Linked DNA regions of Homo sapiens: region 1 is linked to region 2. Evidence: fine-mapped QTL for protein levels in blood plasma. A gene starts in region 2. The other region holds a variant in brackets. All regions are shown on one strand. Distances are between the middles of the regions.

What was found. PIP is the chance, under the fine-mapping model, that this variant and not a neighbour inherited with it causes the effect. Protein levels are from antibody-based Olink assays in UK Biobank. Linkage for the fine-mapping came from a reference panel and not from the study's own genotypes, which makes the PIPs less certain.
Region 1: its variant is fine-mapped to the plasma level of the ADAMTS8 protein (UK Biobank, PIP above 0.99). The variant lies in the coding sequence of ADAMTS8. If it changes the protein, the assay may bind it differently, which can mimic a change of level.

The regions. Positions count from the first base shown.
Region 1 is chr11:130,402,148-130,411,209 of GRCh38, forward strand. It overlaps ADAMTS8 (ADAM metallopeptidase with thrombospondin type 1 motif 8), which reads right to left. Exons shown (of 9, transcript NM_007037.6): 7 at 6,621-6,793; 8 at 6,317-6,492; 9 at 2,776-3,981. The coding sequence ends at 3,411. It overlaps ZBTB44-DT (ZBTB44 divergent transcript), which reads left to right. Exons shown (of 7, transcript NR_148980.1): 7 at 1,154-1,510. Among named protein-coding and RNA genes, the nearest start is that of ADAMTS8, 22 kb to the right of the region's middle. The variant C/T (reference allele first, on the strand shown) is at 6,731.
Region 2 is chr11:130,424,109-130,433,251 of GRCh38, forward strand. ADAMTS8 (ADAM metallopeptidase with thrombospondin type 1 motif 8) reads right to left here and starts at 4,501. Exons shown (of 9, transcript NM_007037.6): 1 at 3,459-4,501. The coding sequence starts at 4,178.

The DNA.
Region 1 (9,062 bases), 22 kb before region 2:
AGAAGACGTCATCACCGTCCTCATGATGTTCACCCCGTCTCCTGTTTTTTGGGGCCATGTGTTCCGAAATGTAGCTTCAACTCATCATAGGGGCAAAAAGAAGTGATGAGTCTGTGGCAGCAGAAATCTGGGAATCCAAGGGTCGTGCTACATCTAGTCCTCTTTGATAAATTCTGCCTTCCTGTTCACATTTTTCGAGAAACCATTTTGAATTCCCAAACAGCAAAGGAAATGCTGCAGGTTCCTGGAGGGACCTGGTGATCTGGGGCAGAGCACACGGAGTCGAGATTGCTGCGGGGTTCACGAGCCTCCCCTCCTGGGACCAGGGGCACCTGGGCAGGGTAGTCTGCACCACGCAGGAAAGCCCAGTACACGCAGCTGCTCAACGCTGCAGACGCCATAGCGCAGGGCTGACAAGGCCTCCCTCTTTATCTGCCCTGGACCACAAGTGGAAAATATCAAGACAAAGCAAAAGCCAGTATCCCTTAAGAACTTTCCAATTGTTCTTGTCATTTGTAGTTTTGTTTTTTGGGGGGTGTGGGGAGGGAGGGGTGGTTTGAAACAACTCCGGAGCACACTCCAGAGGAAAACAGGAAGGGTGACATGTTTGGACACCAGAAAAGAGGAAGAGTCCTCACTAAGAGGGTGACTTGGTTAAAAAGTTCAAGCACAAAGGATGTAGAAGCAGGTGGATGTCATCAGAGAACAGATGCGGATCTAGTGAGATGGGTCCTACCACCCCTGGAATATGTTCCTGGGAGAGGGGTGGTCTGCTAGAGTGGACTGGGAATAGTAATATTGCATACTTTTGTAAATTCACAAAACCCTCTGATCTGTGATAGAGGAATAAAGGGCAGAGGATAAACCCCAGATAAAGATTCACTTATCTTAAAAATGAAAGGTTGGAAATTAACTTTATGCTACTGTACCACCTTCGAAGTATTTCTGGCAGGTGCCTGGAGGATTCAGATTAATGACCAAATTACCTGCCAAGTCAGGGCCTCCCATTAGAAGAGAGTACCAGTTTCCATTAGGAGCACTAGCTGGAAAACACAATCTTTCAGCAGAGGAAATACAGTCTTCTCTCCTTCTCTGGGTGCACAGAGTGGTCGTGGTTGGCTGGGGCAGATAATGGTGTGGTCTTCCTCTGCAGATCTGGTTTCTGAGTCCCTGGGCTGCAGCTGTTGAATTTCCAGACACAAACAAGTATGCGTTCTGAGAGCCTCGCCGAGCCCACACAACCGGGAGAGCCAAGCTGGATTCCATTCTGCTTTGCACATCAGCAGCTCTGCTGCCAGCTGAACTCCAGGGCAAAAGCTGTGCCTGGTAATGATGCAGGCAGCAGGGATGGCACAGCTGGCCTGGCTTAGGCCGTTAAGGGGGACACGCTTGGCCTTATTTGGGGGAGAGCGAGAAATGGAAGGCGATGAAGAGTTGCGGAAGCATACATCAGCCTCCACAAAACTGGTGCACAGCAGGGAAACAATCTGGTTTTGCTAGTCATCAACAACATGCCTGTGTGTGTGCCTGTTTATGCTTAGGTAAGCCCAGCCTCCCACTCGCTGAAAAGAGTAGGCAGACAAGAAGGAGTGACCAACTCTGAGTCAGCTGTCATCGTGTAGAGAGCAGCTAAGGGGAACAGTGGGGCTGGAATCTCATGGCCTTGCCTAGTGCCCCTACAGCATCCTCTCTGCCCATGGTGCCAGATATCTGAATGGGAGGACAAAGGGGGCACAGGTGGTGAAAAAAACCAAGATGCACATTTGGGTATTTTCCTTCTTTTGCTAGAATGTCATTTCTTGATGTCTGTTTCTTGTCACCCATTTGTGATCAGGGACTAAGTAAGTTCCCTCTGCACCAGACCAGGTGGAAGACTGAGCCAGAGTTCCTCTGAGCCACAGGAGAGATGAGGAGCTATGGAGCGGAGTAGGGGCTGAGGATCTGGTGCCCCCAGCTAAACTAAAAGGAGGCAGGCAGCATGTAAGAGGATGATGGGGTAGCTCACAGAGAGGAAGGGGATATTCTTTCTCAAGAATGATGAGCCCAAAGGCATCGCATAACAATTGTGATCTCCCAGCTGGACGTTTCCTGTAGCACAGGTGTTCACAGTGTGGCTCCCAAACCAGCAGCCTCCATGTCAGTCACTGGGAACTTGTTAGAAATGCAGATTCTCAGGCCACCCCAACCATTAGATCAGAAACTCTGGGGATGGGGCCCCACAATCTGTGTTTTCTTTTCTTTCTTTCTTTCTTTTTTTTTTTTTTTGAGACAGGGTCTCACTGTGTCATCCAGGCTGGAGTGCAGTGGCATGAAAATGGCTCACTGCAGCCTCAACCTCCTGGGCTCAAGTGACCCTCCCACCTCAGCCTCCTGAGTAGCTGGGACTACAGGCCTGTACCACCATGACCGACTGATTTCGTTTTTTAATTTTTTATAGAAACAGGGTCTCGCCATATTGTCATGGCTGGTCTTGAACTCCTGGGCTCAGGCAATCCTCCTGCCTCAGCCTCCCAAAGTGCTGGAATGACAGGTGTGAGCCACTGTGCCCAGCCTCACAATCCATTTTCACAGCCCTCTACGTGATCCTAATGAAACCTTGGGAACCACTGGTCTAGATCCTGCAAATGAAAGTTGCCCGAATGAGCTGGATTCTGCAGGCCTGTGAGGACCCAGAGCAGGCAGGGATCCAGCTGCTGACCTAGTTTCAGCCTCCATCCCTGGGTTCTAGGTTGCTGCCCTTTCCAAAGAAACAATGAATCAGACCAGACCACTGCATTGGCATAAGATCACACTTTAGTTCAGAGACACATTTGCATAAATACTTGAAATGGATCCACCCCTGCAGGTGGCAGCCTGAGAACATGTGGCTCTCCAAACCCTGCGACGCTGCGGCCCTTTAGGTGATGGATTTTAACACTGAAGACAGTCGTGGTCATTCTTGAAGACAGCTTGGGGTCCAGCTTTGGAGCCTGCTTTGACATTCACCATTGACTCCCTGCCCCACGCCTCTCTTGTACTAATTTTTTCCCCTGTGAGGTAGATTATTTATCGGGGAAACCAGATAGAATTTTTTTTTTCATTTAAGTTTGCTAGTCCTTTGCAAACAGACTGACGCTGAGTGTCCTGTCTGAGTCAATAAGTGCACTTTTACCTTTTAACCTATGCCCTCTACTTGAACCCGAGCAAGGTCCAGTCCACTGGACAGTTGATGATAGGGTCTGCCGCCCCATACCCTCTCCTCTTCCCCCTTAGGAATTTGTGCAGTACTGGAGGGGTTGCGGCAATGGGAGGCCTGGGTGGGCCGTGCTGCCTTGATATGGCCAAGGGACCCAGTCACCACAGTGGAGACCCTTGTCTGCACCTCAGTACCGCATGTCCAGGAGCACAAGACTGGCCCCTGCCCCCCTGAATCACAGGGGGCACAGCTGGCTTTCGCAGGGCTTGGCATCCTCGGGTTTCAGAGCCTTGTTGCAGGTGGCAGAGGCCTGGCCGGAGGGGTCCCTGCACTCTACAGTTCGCCTCTGCCAGCCGGCCCCGCAGGTGCTAGAGCACTCAGACCAGTCCCCCAGCACCCACTGTGCGTGGAGCAGCGGCTGGATGATGTTGGTGGTTGCTCTCTCTTTGCTGCTCTGCATGCTAAAGTCCACGTCATTAGGAACAAAGAAGGTGTATTTGACTTTTGGGGGGAAGACCTCGCCAGGGACTGTCAGGAGCTGCACTGTCAGAGGCTCTGGCAAGGGCCGGAAGCTCTGCAGGCGCTCCAGGGTGGCGATGGAGCCGCTGTACTTCAGGATGGTCCCCTTCACCAAGATGTCCTGCTCTATGGCAGAGATGGCCAGGTTGCCGTTGAGCAGGTACTGCCCATCAGCCGTCTTCAGCGCCAGGTAGTTCCCATCGTTCTGCACACCCGGGTGGCTCCGCTGCTTCACGTCAATATTAGTGGCACCAGCTGGGATGGTGACAATGTCATTGTAGCCATAACTGTGATAGAAACAGAAGGACACCCTTAGACCAGTGGCTGCCCAGCCCAGGTCACGATGATGCCTTGGAGACTGAAGTGGGCACCCCAGGTGGCAGACACGAAAAAAACAAAGCAAGTAATTAAGCAAGTTGCCTCAAAGTTCTCAATAAATTAGCTGTTTAGGCAGACAGAAATGTCTGTACATTGGGATTTTCAAGGGTGTTTGCTTCATCTGGCAACTCTATTTCAAAAGTGTGGTTGAGGAGTTGAGGTATGTGGGTGTTGAGAACAGCATAGAGACGAGGAGAACCCAGAAGGATGTGGAAAGCTGCACTGGTGTAGCCAAACCTGGCACCTGTCAAATGTGATCTCAAATACCTCTAGCTCCTTGCACTGGTATACAACTTTGATTGGCCACCTCCATACCCAGAGCTCAAACCCACATGGAAAAAACTGTTCCACACACCCCTTCCAGAACGTGAACAGGAGGGAAATTTCACACCACCTCTCTGAGTCAGTCGGCTCCTAGTATTTGATGAATATGGCCCTAGGGTGGGATCAGGGTGGGGTTGGGAGTTGGGGGTTTAAGCCTGCTTCTTTGAAGCCACCTTCTGGGAGTGCCCAGGCACCATGAGCACTGTGCTTCTGGAATGATAGGAAGCAGTTTTGGGAAACTGTTTCCAGTCCATTATAGGCTTAGGGCTTTAGGTAGGATGAAGAAAGATTAGTTGTTTGTTCTTTTCTGGAAATCTGGGTTCCATAGGCTGGGGAGAAAGTGAGGCGAGTGGTCAGGCGGGCTTTTTGCTTTTCTTACCATATGTCCAGCTGGGGCTAGCTGCTTAGTTTCAGACTCTTAGAGTGTCCACAGGCCCATCTGTCTAAAGCCTGAGGGAAAGTGGCCAAGGGACCCAGTATCTGAATAGTGTCTGCTTCTCTTTTTCTATGTCTTTTGAGCTTAAATGTAAAAAGAGTTCCAAGGCAGGGCGCAGTGGCTCATACCCACAATCCCAGCACTTTGGGAGGCCAAGGCGGGCGGATCACTTGATGCCAGGAGTTCAAGACCAGCCTGGCCAACATGACGAAACCCAGTCTCTACTAAAAATACAAAAATTAGCTGGGTGTGGTGGTGCATGCCTGTAATCCCAGCTACCTGGGAAGCTGAGGCAGGAGAATTGCTTGAACCTGGGAAGCAGGTTGCAGTGAGCCAAGATCGTGCCACCGCACTCCAGCCTAGGCAACAGAGTGAGACTCTGTCTCAAAATAATAAAAATAAATTAAAAAAAATGAAAACAGTCCCAAGTTGCCTGCTGTAGGCTGATTCTGTTCTCTCAGACTGGTGAGATGAGAGATGTAGAGACAGACAGACAGACAGACAGACACACACACACACACAGAATGGGGCAGGGTTTGCGAGCTTCACTAGGTAGAATACAATACAGTGAACACTTCTCAAAAACTCTGAGACCGTGAGTGGGGGAAGTGGCTGGACAGGTGGATGCTCACATAAGCCCTAGGACACATTGATGTACTGGAGGCAGACAGGCAGAGTGTGGCCCATATAAAACACCCGAACTTGCCCTTACTCTGCAGGAAGTACATGGAATGGGAGACAAAAGTCATCCAGGACTTAGGAAAACTAGGTTCTCTTCTGGCTGTCATTAACCATCAATGTGACCTTAGAAAAGTCATTTAATCTTTCTGTGCCTTAATTTCTTCCTCTGCAAAATGAGGAATAGTATTGGCCTTGCTCACCTCATGGACTTATTTTACAAATCAAATGAGACCATGGAAATGAAAGCGCTTTGGAAAATCCTTGGAGTTTTATGAATGTGGGGCATTAGGATGAGAAAAAAGTGTCTGGAGTTCTCAGATTCATGAAAGCCCTGAGGCTGCCAGGGCCCCTTTTTGGTAACCCCCTTCTCTGAAGATCCATCTGCAGAAAGGACAGGGGCTTGCCAGGCTTAGGGTGAGACGTCCTTCCCAAAACAGGCCTGGGAGAGCTGTTTTCTGGCAGAGGTCCAGGTTACTCAGTGTGGCTCGATTGACTCAGAGATGACAGCTCCCTATCCACATGGCCTCCAGCCCTCGTAAAAGTCACGGCTGCCCTGTGTTCTATCTTTTCTATGAGCTCGACACTGCCAAGTGCACATCCCATCTCAGGAAATCCTTACAACGACTCTGAGATAGAGATACTGCTGACATTTTACAAAGAAACTGAAGCTCGGAGAGTTTAAATAACTTGCCCAACCCTCACAGCTATTAAGTAGCAGCCACAGTTCAATTTGGGCCTAGCAGAGTGCAAAGCCCATTATGCTCTTCTACCAAGCAAGGTACAGAACTTCTGGGGAGACTCACTTGGTGGGGGTGAGGGACCCGGAGACCTTCCTGCAGGAGTTGCCTTTGCCCCCACACACCCCGCATTTGTCCAGCTTCCGAGGCGAGTCCACCACATGGTCACAGCCGGCCTTGACACACTGGCCACGGACACAGATGGCCAGTGTTTCTGGCCCACACAGGGTGCCATCAATCACCTGCAACGGGGAAAGGGAAGGTGAGGGAGGGCGTGTTGAGCACAGAAGCAGCCTGCCGGGGGGCGGGGGTGTGGGGACAGGCGACCTTCCTCCCCATCTCTGGATCTGAGTCCCAGGGTGATTCTCACCTTGGCCTCGAACACTTTGAACTCGCTCCTCCCCCGGGCTCGGCAGAACAACTTGCAGCGGTCCCGGGGGGACACCCCAGCATACTTGGGGACCCACTGCAGGAGATTCC[C/T]GTCCATGTCAGTGTAATTGTAGGCATTATACTTCTCACACTGCTGCTCCCTGAAGCTTTTCCCTAGAAAGAGGAAGAAACGGCATGGAGGTGACACCCATGCGGAAGCAGGAGCATCCGGTGGAGAAATCCCGAATTTACAGCACTTTTCTTCTTTCTTTTGGTTTTGAACTCAACCCAGGCGCCCAGGGCCAGTGTCTTCTGGGCACAACATTCCTAGACGCATGTGTGACCCTTACTCAAAAGGGCAAGGAAAGGAGCCTCCAGCCGCATGCTGGGCTTTCTAGGATAAATGCCCTTTCCATTAGGGAAAGAGACTCATTGTACTCTACAGGTGAATAAACGCAGGGAGCAACAGGGAACAATTCAGTAAGCTTGGAAGGCACAGAATGGCATGTGGAGCTATATTCTCAGGACACTACTAATTGTGCAGTATCGATTTCCTCAGTGACACCGGACATGAATCCAAAGACTCCTAAATCTACATGTCTAGCTCTGATCTTGCCCCTACACCCACATTCCGTAATTCTGGGTGTCCCTGGGGAGCTCCGTTTGTATGTACTGTGATTACCTCCAACTCAGCATGGCCAAGCTCCCGATGGTCCTTCCACGAACTGTCTTGACTTTCATTTGCTGATCTTACCATGCCCAAGTCTGAGACTGGTATCCTGGTATCTCCCGAACATTTGAGCATCTCTATCTGCTATTTCCAAACTGTCACAAAGACCCACACTATATTCAGGACAATCTGTGATTTAAAACGATGGCATCCCACTCTCACCACCACAAGCCCAGGCCTGCTGGCTTCATGGGGACCTGTGCCTGCCTCCTCTCCATCCTGCCACGTGCTGCTGCCAGACCAACCCATCTGAAGTTAGATGTGGGTTGCTTTCCACCCCCAAATCCTAAAATTAAAGCTGTTCTTCCTGCCAAGGTTCCCTGCCCAAACTGTGCATCTGAATGCCTGGGGAGACTTTGCCAAGGCAGATGCCATACTCCACGCCTGAGACTCTGAGTCAGTGCAGCTGAGGGGGTCTGGGCTGTGTCTGCAGGAGCTTCCAGGTGACTTAATGGGACAGGTGGCACAGATAACTCCCAGATACTGTGTCAGCCTTCAAGGACCTCTGTGGTCTGGCCTTGACATAGTGGTGTGCTTTGCTTGATTCCACCTAAGTGAATGAGGGCCCTTCTCACACCTTTCCACCACCCTGGCAGGTCCCCTCACACCTCACCCATCTCAGTCCTCCAGACTCTGCTCAGTCCTAACTCCTTTCAAAGCTTCCGCTCACCCAGCCTTTCCTTTCTCCGAGCGCCTCACCAACCTAGGGTCTGTGACTCATCCATTGAAATGTAATGGCTGTGTTAAAGGGATTTGGGTCTCTAATTGGACTACAAGCTCCTTAGGGACAGAGACCATGCCTTTTACATTTTCATACATTTTTATAGTTCTAGACACACAAAAAATACTAAAAAATACTCGACAGTAATGGCAGACTTTGGTGCATCTGACATCATGGCATCACTTTTCGTCCACACCTACCTTGCACCCTATATTCATTCTCATCCTCCCCCTTTCCCAGCAACGTCTCACCCTGTATGCCAGGCAAACTCTCATACAATTCCAGGGCAAAGTTTCTAGAGCCTCAAACCATTGTGGATCCTTCTTGTCTTGTGAAACCGCAAAGCCTACAGATTCTCCTGAGACATCAACCCAATGCCAGTGTCTTTTCCCGTGGTTGAATCTCTCCTAAGGCTCTGCCTGATTTTTCTTGCCTGCCAATCCTTCCTGGAGCTGCACACTGGGCAGTTGGATGGGATGGTGGGGAAAAACCTTGTAATGATTTCCCTCTCACGAGTTTGCTGCTGCCCCTTTACTGCCTCTAAGTTAATGTTCATGGTTTCCAGCAGGTACTGGGGATAGGAATATGCCAAGGGGAGGGAGAGGTAGTATTCCTTCCTGGGAAGATTCTGTCAAACAGTTGCCATGTTCCCAAGGGAAGATGGGCAACTCTTCTCAGAAGGAATGTGAACAGGAATCAGATTCAGAAATCCTCCCTCTGCCCTGGGCTGAATTTTGGCTAGAAAGACCTTGGAGGTTTGGCTCTGACACTTGCTTTGGAAAATGCTTCCATTCTGCACACAGATGAGGGTTCCTATGCCTCCAGGAGGATTAGTTTCCTAGACACCAGCCCCTCTGCAGAGGCTCCTCCCCAATAAGTTTGGTTGGGAGTGATGTCCTCCTCTCCACATCTTGGAAGATGAGCGTAATTTCTCTCCTTGACTTTGCCAGGCTCTCTGAACACTATGAGAGCTGTCCCGGGTCCCTGAGAGC
Region 2 (9,143 bases):
CTGGATTTAAAGACCCACTCCCACAACATAAGCAAGTATCAGAGGGTCGACAGAGCCACAGACCCTAGTCCTGAGAAAGAGGCCGCCTGGTGGGATAACAGTGCACAGGATTCAGCTTTGGGAGACTTGGTCTGCAGGCCCAGCCCTGCCACTTACTGATCCTGATCGGTGCTGTCTGATCCTGAGGAAGCCACATGTCCTCTGTGAGCTGTGCAGTCTCCCTCTGCCCCCCTCACTGGTATTTTCATGGAGGTGATGTGTGTAAAACCACGCTGTGAATTGAACACGCTCAGAGAGTGGCTAAACCTTCCAGAAGACTGGCTCATCATGAAGCAGCCACACAGGTGCTCAGACCGGGATTGATCACCTAGTCCAGGTGTCCTGCTTCACAGATGAGGAACTCTAAGCCCTAGAGAGGTAAAGGCTCTTCTCATCCTCCACACCCCTGATTACCAAGAGTAATCACCCCAGAGTGCCTTCCCTCTGTGTGAATGAGGTCTCCACATAAAGGACTGGCTTCCATTTGCAGGAGGTGGGTGTGGGCAGCCAAGGTCTTGAGGCACGGGAACTTGATTTTCATTCTTCTCTCAGCTGGGCTCATGGATCTGTTTTCGGAAGCGCAGGGGACTGAGCTGAGACAGTCACGCCTGTCCTGCAGCATCTCCAAGGCTGGTCAGCTCATCATAGCACAGGGGCCCGAGGGTGGTCCTGGACACAGCTGTACCTCAGTCCCTCCCCCACCCGCCACGGTGGCAGCAGGAGCACAGGTGGGATGGGACATGAGACCCAGGGTGGAGGTGGCGGGGCTAGTCTCCCTGAGGGAAGACTTTTCTTCCAGGTGAGACTCAGAAGTCAACCCCCTAGGGAGAGGAACTCAGCCTTCAGAGGTGCCCGATGCCTGTTTTGCTGCGCTCTCCTGGTCCAGGTGGGCTGGCTGGGTGTGCAGGTGCCAATGTGCAGCTGGGAAAGGTCCAGAAATGCGTGTTTGTGGGGGATGGGGAGCGGGGCAAGCAGGAGCCACATCGCCCGGTCAGGAGTCTCATGAGGATGGCAATGCCTGGGTGTCTCTGACACAGAGAAAGCCGAATTGTCTGGGGCAGCAGACCTGAACTTTAAGCTGAAGGGAACAAAATCGGGTGCAAACCCAAGCAGAGTCTCCTGCTTCAGCAGCCCGGGCATCCTGGGGTCGGGCCTCAGAGCATGTCTGCCTCTAGATAGCTAGGATGTCTGGAGATGCGAGTATGTCCCTGAGGCAAATACTCAGTTATCTCCAGCGTCCAGGTGATCAGCTGAGAGAGTGAGACAGTCTGGCCCTGAAGGCTGAAAAATGGACTTTCTCTGCTGGCACGGAGTTCTCTTGGCTTTCCTATGTTTTGGTTCTTAGGTAGATGTCAGAATCTGTTCCATGTGTGGGGGTAGAGGGGTGTAGCACCCCGCTCTGGGTTTGCAATGGGTGCATCTTAGCTTCTTACTTTTTTTGTGTTTTTCTTTTTTCTTTTTTTTTTTTTTTAAGATGGAGTCTTGCTCTGTCACCCAGGCTGGAGTGCAGTGGCGCGGTCTCCGCTCACTGCAAGCTCTGCCTCCTGAGTTGACACCATTCTCCTGCCTCAGCCTCCCGAGTAGCTGGGACTACAGGCGCCCACCACCACGCCTGGCTATTTTTTTTGTATTTTTAGTAGAGACGGGGTTTCACCGTGTTAGCCAGGATGGTCTTGATCTCCTGAGCTTGCGATCTGCCCACCTCGGCCTCCTAAAGTGCTGGGATTACAGGCTTGAGCCACCGTGCCCGGCCATCTTAGCTTCTTTCTGGTGGAGCCCCCTAGGAGCCAGGTGTGGGGGTCCTAAAGAGATGGGAGAAGCCCTCTTCTCACCCCTCTCCTGCCACACTCTCTAGTACTTGCTTAAAGAAAGGAGTCAGAGGAGAGGGCTGGTGCTCCCACCGCTCCGTGCTCTCAGGACAGGCAGGGAAACAGGTGTTAAATCAGCGTGACCCAAAGCTGCTCTGCCCTGCTTTTGGGGAAGCAAATACCACAAGGGCTTGCAGGGGTGCGTCCCTGGGGTGTAGTCAGCACCTGCAGTAGCCAGAGGGGCAGCCACGTGGACTCTCACCCACAGCAGTTCCCATCCTAATCATCTGTTTCTCCCTGGGTCTTTCCTACCCTGCCTTTCCCAGTGATAGAGGGTGGGAAAGATGGGGTGAGAAACAGAAGGCTGATCGCCTCCTTGTCTGGACTATTCTGCACAGGCAATGCCTATGCCCTTGGGGCCCCCAGCAGTCGGGCACAGACTGAGCCTAGTATTGGGTCCCGGCCAAGGATGCCATCACCACAAAGTGTCAGCTTAGCTGCTGCATTGCCAGGATCCCTGTTTCAGGGAACTATGACGTCTGGGCAGGTCAGTTCTTCCTTCCCTGGCACATCTCTGGTTCTGTGCTCCCTAGGGGCAAAGAGCACCCCTCTTCTGGAAGCCTTACCCTCTTTTCCTCCTGGAAAAGCCTTCACCTGGTCTTTAGGGGAGAAATTGGGGTTTAGGGCAACACAGACACCTCCTGCTGAGTCAGCACCATCTTTGCATCTAGTTAGAAATGGTCTGGTTAGGTAGCCATCCCCTGGACTCTGTTTTTCTCCCCTGTTTAGGTAAGAGCTGTGTCTGGGCTAAGGGCAGCTGGGTGGACCAAGTGTGGGTCTGGCTTTACTAGAGACATTCACCCAAAGAGCTCGTTCCAGCCCCTGCGCCCCTCGCGTTTCCACCAAAGCTTCAGCTCCTGGGCTGAGCCCCCAGGCAGAAGTTCTCTGCCCCTCCCTCTTGTGCTGGCTGCTGGCATTGCCAAGTTCTGCCGGGGCTGAGCGCCAGGTTGGCAAGGTAGTCCATGCCCCATTGATCACAACCAGCTGGCTGCACAGAAGTTGGGCAGCCCCTCTCCAGGTTCAGCTCCTTTCAAACAATGTCTTTTGCTTATGGCGACCTCCATACCCAAGGGAATCAGACAGCCATCTCTCTCCATCCCATCTGCCTTTCCCTGGGAGCCTCTCAGATCTGGAGGCAGTAGAGGGCTGAGGGGTGGGAGTGGGAGCTATTCGTAAACGCTCAATTTTCATCTCTGCTGGGAGAGGCAGGTGCCGGGGAATGCGTTGATACCCACTTTCGGGTCAGTGCGCCACGTGCCGCGGGAGATTCGGATGAGAGGGATGGGCGTCGGCAGCCCCACTCTAAACTGGAAGGGACCTGGGGGTGGGGGCGCAGGGATCCAGGGTGGCAGAAGTTCAGAAAAGAGTTACTGCTCTTTCTCAGACAGGAGAGAATCTCGTTTGGGGTAAGGCTGGAGAAGATGAGTGGGGAGGGCTTTTTTTTTTTTTTTTTTTTTTTCTCAGAGGGATTGGAAGGGGAGATTTTAGAGACGCTGGGAGGCGTCTGGGGGGCCTCCGGGCACGGCGGCTGGAGGAGGCTCTCAGTCCTACCTGCAGGTCGGCCCCGTAGAAGGCAGCCATGGACGCATCGGCCACCAGCAGCGTCTCCACGAAGCGCGCCTCAGACACAAACCGCTTGGTCCTACTCGTGGCCCCCAGGGGCGGTGGCGGCTCGCTAGCGCCTTCTGCCTCCTCTTCTTGGCTCTCCTCCTCGCTGTCCTCCTGGTGGTCTCCTCTCTCCTGCCTCTGACCCTCTCCCGTCTCCACCTCCCACTCGGGTCCTCGCGGGAGGGGGCGGGCTCCGGCGGGACCCCAGCGCTGCAGGCGGTGCGGCTGAGCCAGGGAGCCCCCCGCGCCCTGCGGCTGGATGGTGAACTCCTCGCCGTCCAGCAGGAAGGAGCCGCTCAGCCCGCGGCACAGGCTGACCGCCGCCAGCGACTCGGGCTCCCCATTCACGGTGCCGGAGAAGAAGCAGCCGCGCAGCCCCCGCTCGCCCCCGGTCGCCCGGCCGGAGCCCCCGAGGCGCTCGATCTTGAACTCGGGCGCTAGGAAGCTGTCGTCGGGCGCCAGGCGCAGCACGAAGCCCTTGCCGAAGGCGGACAGGTGGAGCGCGAGCTCGCCCGCGCTGCCGGGCAACCGCGTGGGCACCACCAGCTCCGAGGCCTGCCCCCCGGCTGCGGGCCGGGCCGGGGCGCCGCGGGCCAGCGGCAGCAGCAGCAGCAGCAGCAGCAGGAGCGGAGGCCACCGGGGGGCGGCGGGGGCGGGGAGCATGGGGGCTGCGGCGGTGGCTGCGCGCAGGAGAGGGAAGAAGCCCGCCAGGCGCGGGCAGGTGCTGGCGGCCCGAGCGCGGCCCGGCCGCTCTCTCCAGGAAAAGCGGAATCAATCGGGTGCAAGGCCGACTCGGCCCGCGGGGCCCGGCGGCGGGAGCGCTCCCCCGGCGGCCCCTCTGGCTGGCGCAGCCCGCTCCTCCCGCGCCGCCGCCCCCGAGCCGAGCGCGAGCAGCTGGCCCCGGCCCGCGTGCGCCCGTCCTCCGCCCCTGCCCGCGCCAGCCCCGCGCAGCCGCCTCCTGCCTCCTCCCCACCCCGGGAAGCACCGAGTGGGCTGCCGAGCCCTTCTTATTTATACTTCCTTCCCGGCTTGACATAAGAGGTTTATTTTTGATCTCTCACTATTCCCGTTTCCCCTCCCCTGGGATCAGAGAGAGAAACTGAAAAGAGGGAGAGAGAGTGGAGAAAAAAAAATTGGGATGAAATGCAAAACCAATCAGGCAGCGAGACCCGTCCGCCACCCGCCCCCCTGAAGTGTCAACTACAACTTCTTTCCTTTCCCTCTACGCGTGGACCCACGTTAACCCCTACCATGCTGGACTGACCCTTTAGAAAGAGTCCCTGGGAGACCCCAACCGCTTTCTCCTCTGCGGCCAAGAGTCCAGGATGCATCTTCCGAAGAGGCTCGTGCACTGGTCTCAGCGACCCTGTTCGGATCCCTGCAGAGTCCGACTGCAGAGCCCGACACTGTTGGGATCCCTGCAGATGCCTCCGGAGATCCGACTGTGTGGGGAGAAGGTTCCTGAGCTTTTCATTGTAAAGCATAAAGGGAGAGGAGGAAAAGGTCATGCTAAAATCATGCCCTCCTCTCATCACTACTGCACAGCCTTCCTAACTTTCACTCCAAACTGAAGATGGGGAAAACAAAAACAAAACAAAAAACAACCCACCTGGTTAACCCTAAGAGGGACTCTCACTGTCCTGTTAGAGGGCAGGTGGGGCAGAGGCCAGCACAGTGGTAAGTTACCAGCACTGAGGTTGGAAGTTAGCATTTCCCCAAGAGGGAAACAGACCTCCAGTCCCTGAAAAAGGTCTTCTCTTCTGGATACTGCTAGTTGCCCGGGACTTCAAGTAAGGTGGCAGGCCCTTTCACTGCGTTGCCACAGCCCCAGGAACAAATGTGTATGAGGTGAATTTATTCTGTCCCATGTCACCACTGCCCCCTAGGGAAGGGGGTAGTATTCAGGAAGAGAGGGATGACATGGTCTCAAGACCACAAAACTGCATCCCATCCCAGTCTCAATGACACAGGTCTGGATTGGGTGGAGGGCCCTGTTCTCTACCTACAAACTCTAGACTCATCCACCAACTGTGCCTTTCTCTGAGTTGTCAATGTGGGTGATGCATTAGGAACCGCTGGGATCAGGGCCTTTAAATCCTTTGCCAATTCACCTGCCCCCAGGTACCCAGCTCTGTGCTTATGCTGGGGATGTTGACAGTCGAGGTCATCGCTGATTCTTTTCAGCCCATCTGACCCCTTCCTGCAGTGTGGTGGTTCAGCATGCATCTGAGACTCTCAGGGCTTGTTACCTCCAAAGAGGAGGCTCTTGCCCAGGGGAAAGTGCTGCCAAATTCCCTCTAAGTATCCCCCCTCTCTTTGCTTTCTCAGAAACACAGAGGGACAGCTGTGAATTAGATGAAAGGATGAACTTCCCAACCTAGCATGGTGCAGAACCTCCTTTCCTGCATAATTTATAGGATAGGAATAACGAGTCTAGAATGTTTTGGGGAAACACTTCTAGAGGAAGGACAATGGAAAGAATGGTCTCTTCAACCCTTTTCTCAAAACAAGCAAAACACTTCGTCCTAGCACAGTGTACAGTGCTTGGGACATCCTGTACAGTGCTTGGGACAGTCTGACCTGGGCAAGCAATGAATACAACTCTGTGTTGCCTCAGGGCTATTGTAACAGTTCAATGACTGGTTTTTACCTCCTTGAAGCCCCTTATTTGCTGTTTCCCAGAGTACAACTCCTGATTTTCTCTTTTTGAGACACAGTCTCACTTTGTCACCCAGGCTGGAGTGCAATGGTGCGATCTTGGCTTACAGCAACTTCTCCCTCTCAGGTTCAAGAGATTCTCCTGCCTCAGCCTCCCAAGTAGCTGAGACTGCAGGCAGGCACCACCACACCTGGCTAACTTTTGTACTTTCAGTAGAGATGGGGTTTCACCATTTTGGCCAGGCTGGTCTCCAACTCCTGACCTCAGGTGATCCGCCTGCCTCAACCTCCCAAAGTGCTGGGATTATAGGTGTGAGCTACTGTGCCAGCTAACTCCTGATTTTCAGTAGCAGTTAGGTCCTGTGGGTTTTCCTTCTTTCTCGAGTGTAAGCATCTGGGAGGAGTGGGAGTGAGGAGCGTGCCCAGTTTCCCTTTCTCCCGCCCGAATGCTAAGGGCTAGAAGTGGGAGATTTAACTGAACCAAGGAAAGTCTTGAGTGTCCATGGAGCCTTTGGTTGTGAAGGCTCTGGAAGTTGCTGCTTCATTTTTATTTTAGTTTTTAATTTTTTGAGATGGCGTTTCGCTCTTGTTACCCAGGCTGGAGTGCAATGGCGAGATCTCAGCTCACTGAAACCGCCTCCAGGGTTCAAGTGATTCTCTTGCCTCAGCCTCCCAAGCAGCTGGGATTACAGGCTCCTGCCACCATGCCCGGCTGATGTTTTTTTTTTTTTTTAGTAGAGACAGGGTTTCACCATGTTGGTCAGGCTGGTCTTGAACTCCTGACGTCAGGTGATTCTCCCACCTTGGCCTCCCAAAGTACTGGGATTACAGGCGTGAGCCACCGAGCCTGGCCACTGCTGCTTCATTTTTTTAATAGGATGAAGTGCCCCCATAGGTAGCATTTTGGAAGTTCTCTTTGGAGAGAGAAGTCAGATAGTGAGTTCTGGACTTTATCCTTCCTCATTTCAACAACAACATCACCACCACCCCCACCACCCCCACCACCCACCACCGCCGCCGCCGCCACCACCACCACCACCACCTGCTGACTGGTTCATTGACTGGCCCCGCAGTCCCCGCTCCCTCCTGGATTTCCCCTTCCCCAGATGTGCAGTGCTGCTAACTTCCAAGGTAGCTCCTGCCGTTCGCAATGCAACCACAAGGTGTCAGGCTTACCTTGGCTATGTTAAACCCAGGACCTGGCTATGTTAAACCCAGGACCTGGCTATGTTAAACCCAGGACCTGGCTATGTTAAACCCAGGACCTGGCTATGTTAAACCCAGGACCTGGCTATGTTAAACCCAGGACCCTTGCCACAGGGAGCGAGAAAGGGTGGGTGGTTTGTAGTGGCCGCTCTTAGAGGAGTGGCAGGTGAAAACAGTGCAGCAAAACAAACATCAACAAACCAACCCGTGAAAATCCCATAACGGCATTCTGCCAATTCCGGATTTCTTACATTACTACTTTATTTCCCAAAATATGTAATTACGGCAGGGTTGCCAAACTACGGCCCTTGGGCTAATTGCTGCACACTGCTTGTTTTTTTGCACTCTACAAGCTAAGAATAGTTTTTATATTTTTAAGTGGTAAATTAAAAAAATTAGAAAGAATATTAAAATTTCTTGACACTTGAAAATGGTATGAAATTCAAATTTGTGTCCATAAATAAAGTTTATTGGAATGCAGCCACAGCCATTCATGTACGCATTCTTTGCTCTTGAGCTGCGAGGGAAGGGTTGAGTAAGCCTAAAATATTTACTATCTGGCTCTTTGCAGAAAAGTTTGCTGACTCCTGAATGTAAAAGAGCATCAATTTGGATTCCTCAAATTTGGAATCTGGGATTACTTAAGCTCGCTATATGCCATTCTTATGGAATAAGAAGCTCAAAATAATTGCTTGCTCTGAATGTGAAAAGGAAATTATATAAAAAATGAAAATATCTTTGTTTTGTCTTTAATTCTGTATCTAATAGTTGCTTATTATTTAATCCATCCTTAATAATTAAAAGATTTTTATGTTTATGGTGTCTTATACTGTAGGCCTATAGTGATTTTTAAGTTTTTGATCAACTTACATTATTAGTGACTGCTTATTTCTTAGTTTATAACTAGAGTTTTATATGGTATATATGATACATTTTTAGTGTATATAAGTTCTGGTATTCTTTAGAATTCCAGACTCCTTAAAACGGGAAGAAACAATGGTGATCATCTAATCCACTGCCACTCACATTTTGCAGAGAAGAAACAGAAATTCAGAGGTTTCAGTGACTTACCCAAAATGACATAACTAGTGATGAATTTTTTTCCCCAAAATACTATCGTATCCTCTACATGAAGATAAAAAAATTGTTTTGCTTTAGAACTTCATTTACAATTCGTACATTTTCAGTAAAGTTTAGTGTTTACTATGGGCCTGGGCATTGTTCTGAGCACTTTTTTTTTTTTTTGAGACAGAGTCTTGCTCTGTCGCCAGGCTGGAGTGCAATGGAGCCATCTCGGTTCACTGCAACCTCTGCCTCCTGGGTTCAAGTGATTCCCCTGCCTCAGCCTCCCGAGTAGCTGGGACTATAGGCGCATGCCACCATGCCCAGCTAATTTTTAGTAGAGACAGGGTTTTACCATGTTAGCCAGGATGGTCTCGATCTCTTGACTTCGTGATCTGCCCACCTCAGTCTCCCAAAGTGCTGGGGTTACAGGCGTGAGCCACCGTGCCTGGCCGCACTTATTTTAATTTAATTTCCATTCAATCCTCAGTAATAATAGCTTCCATCTTTTGAGTGCTTGCTGTGCACTAGGCACTGTGCTGAGCAGCTCACAACTCTTATCTCATTTAATCATCATGACAGTCCTCTGAAAAAGACACCTTACAGACAGGTAAAGAAATAGGCTGGAGAGGTTAGAGAACTTGCTTATGGTCACCTAGCTAATAAGCAGCAGAGACAGAATTCTTAACCAAGGTGGAAATC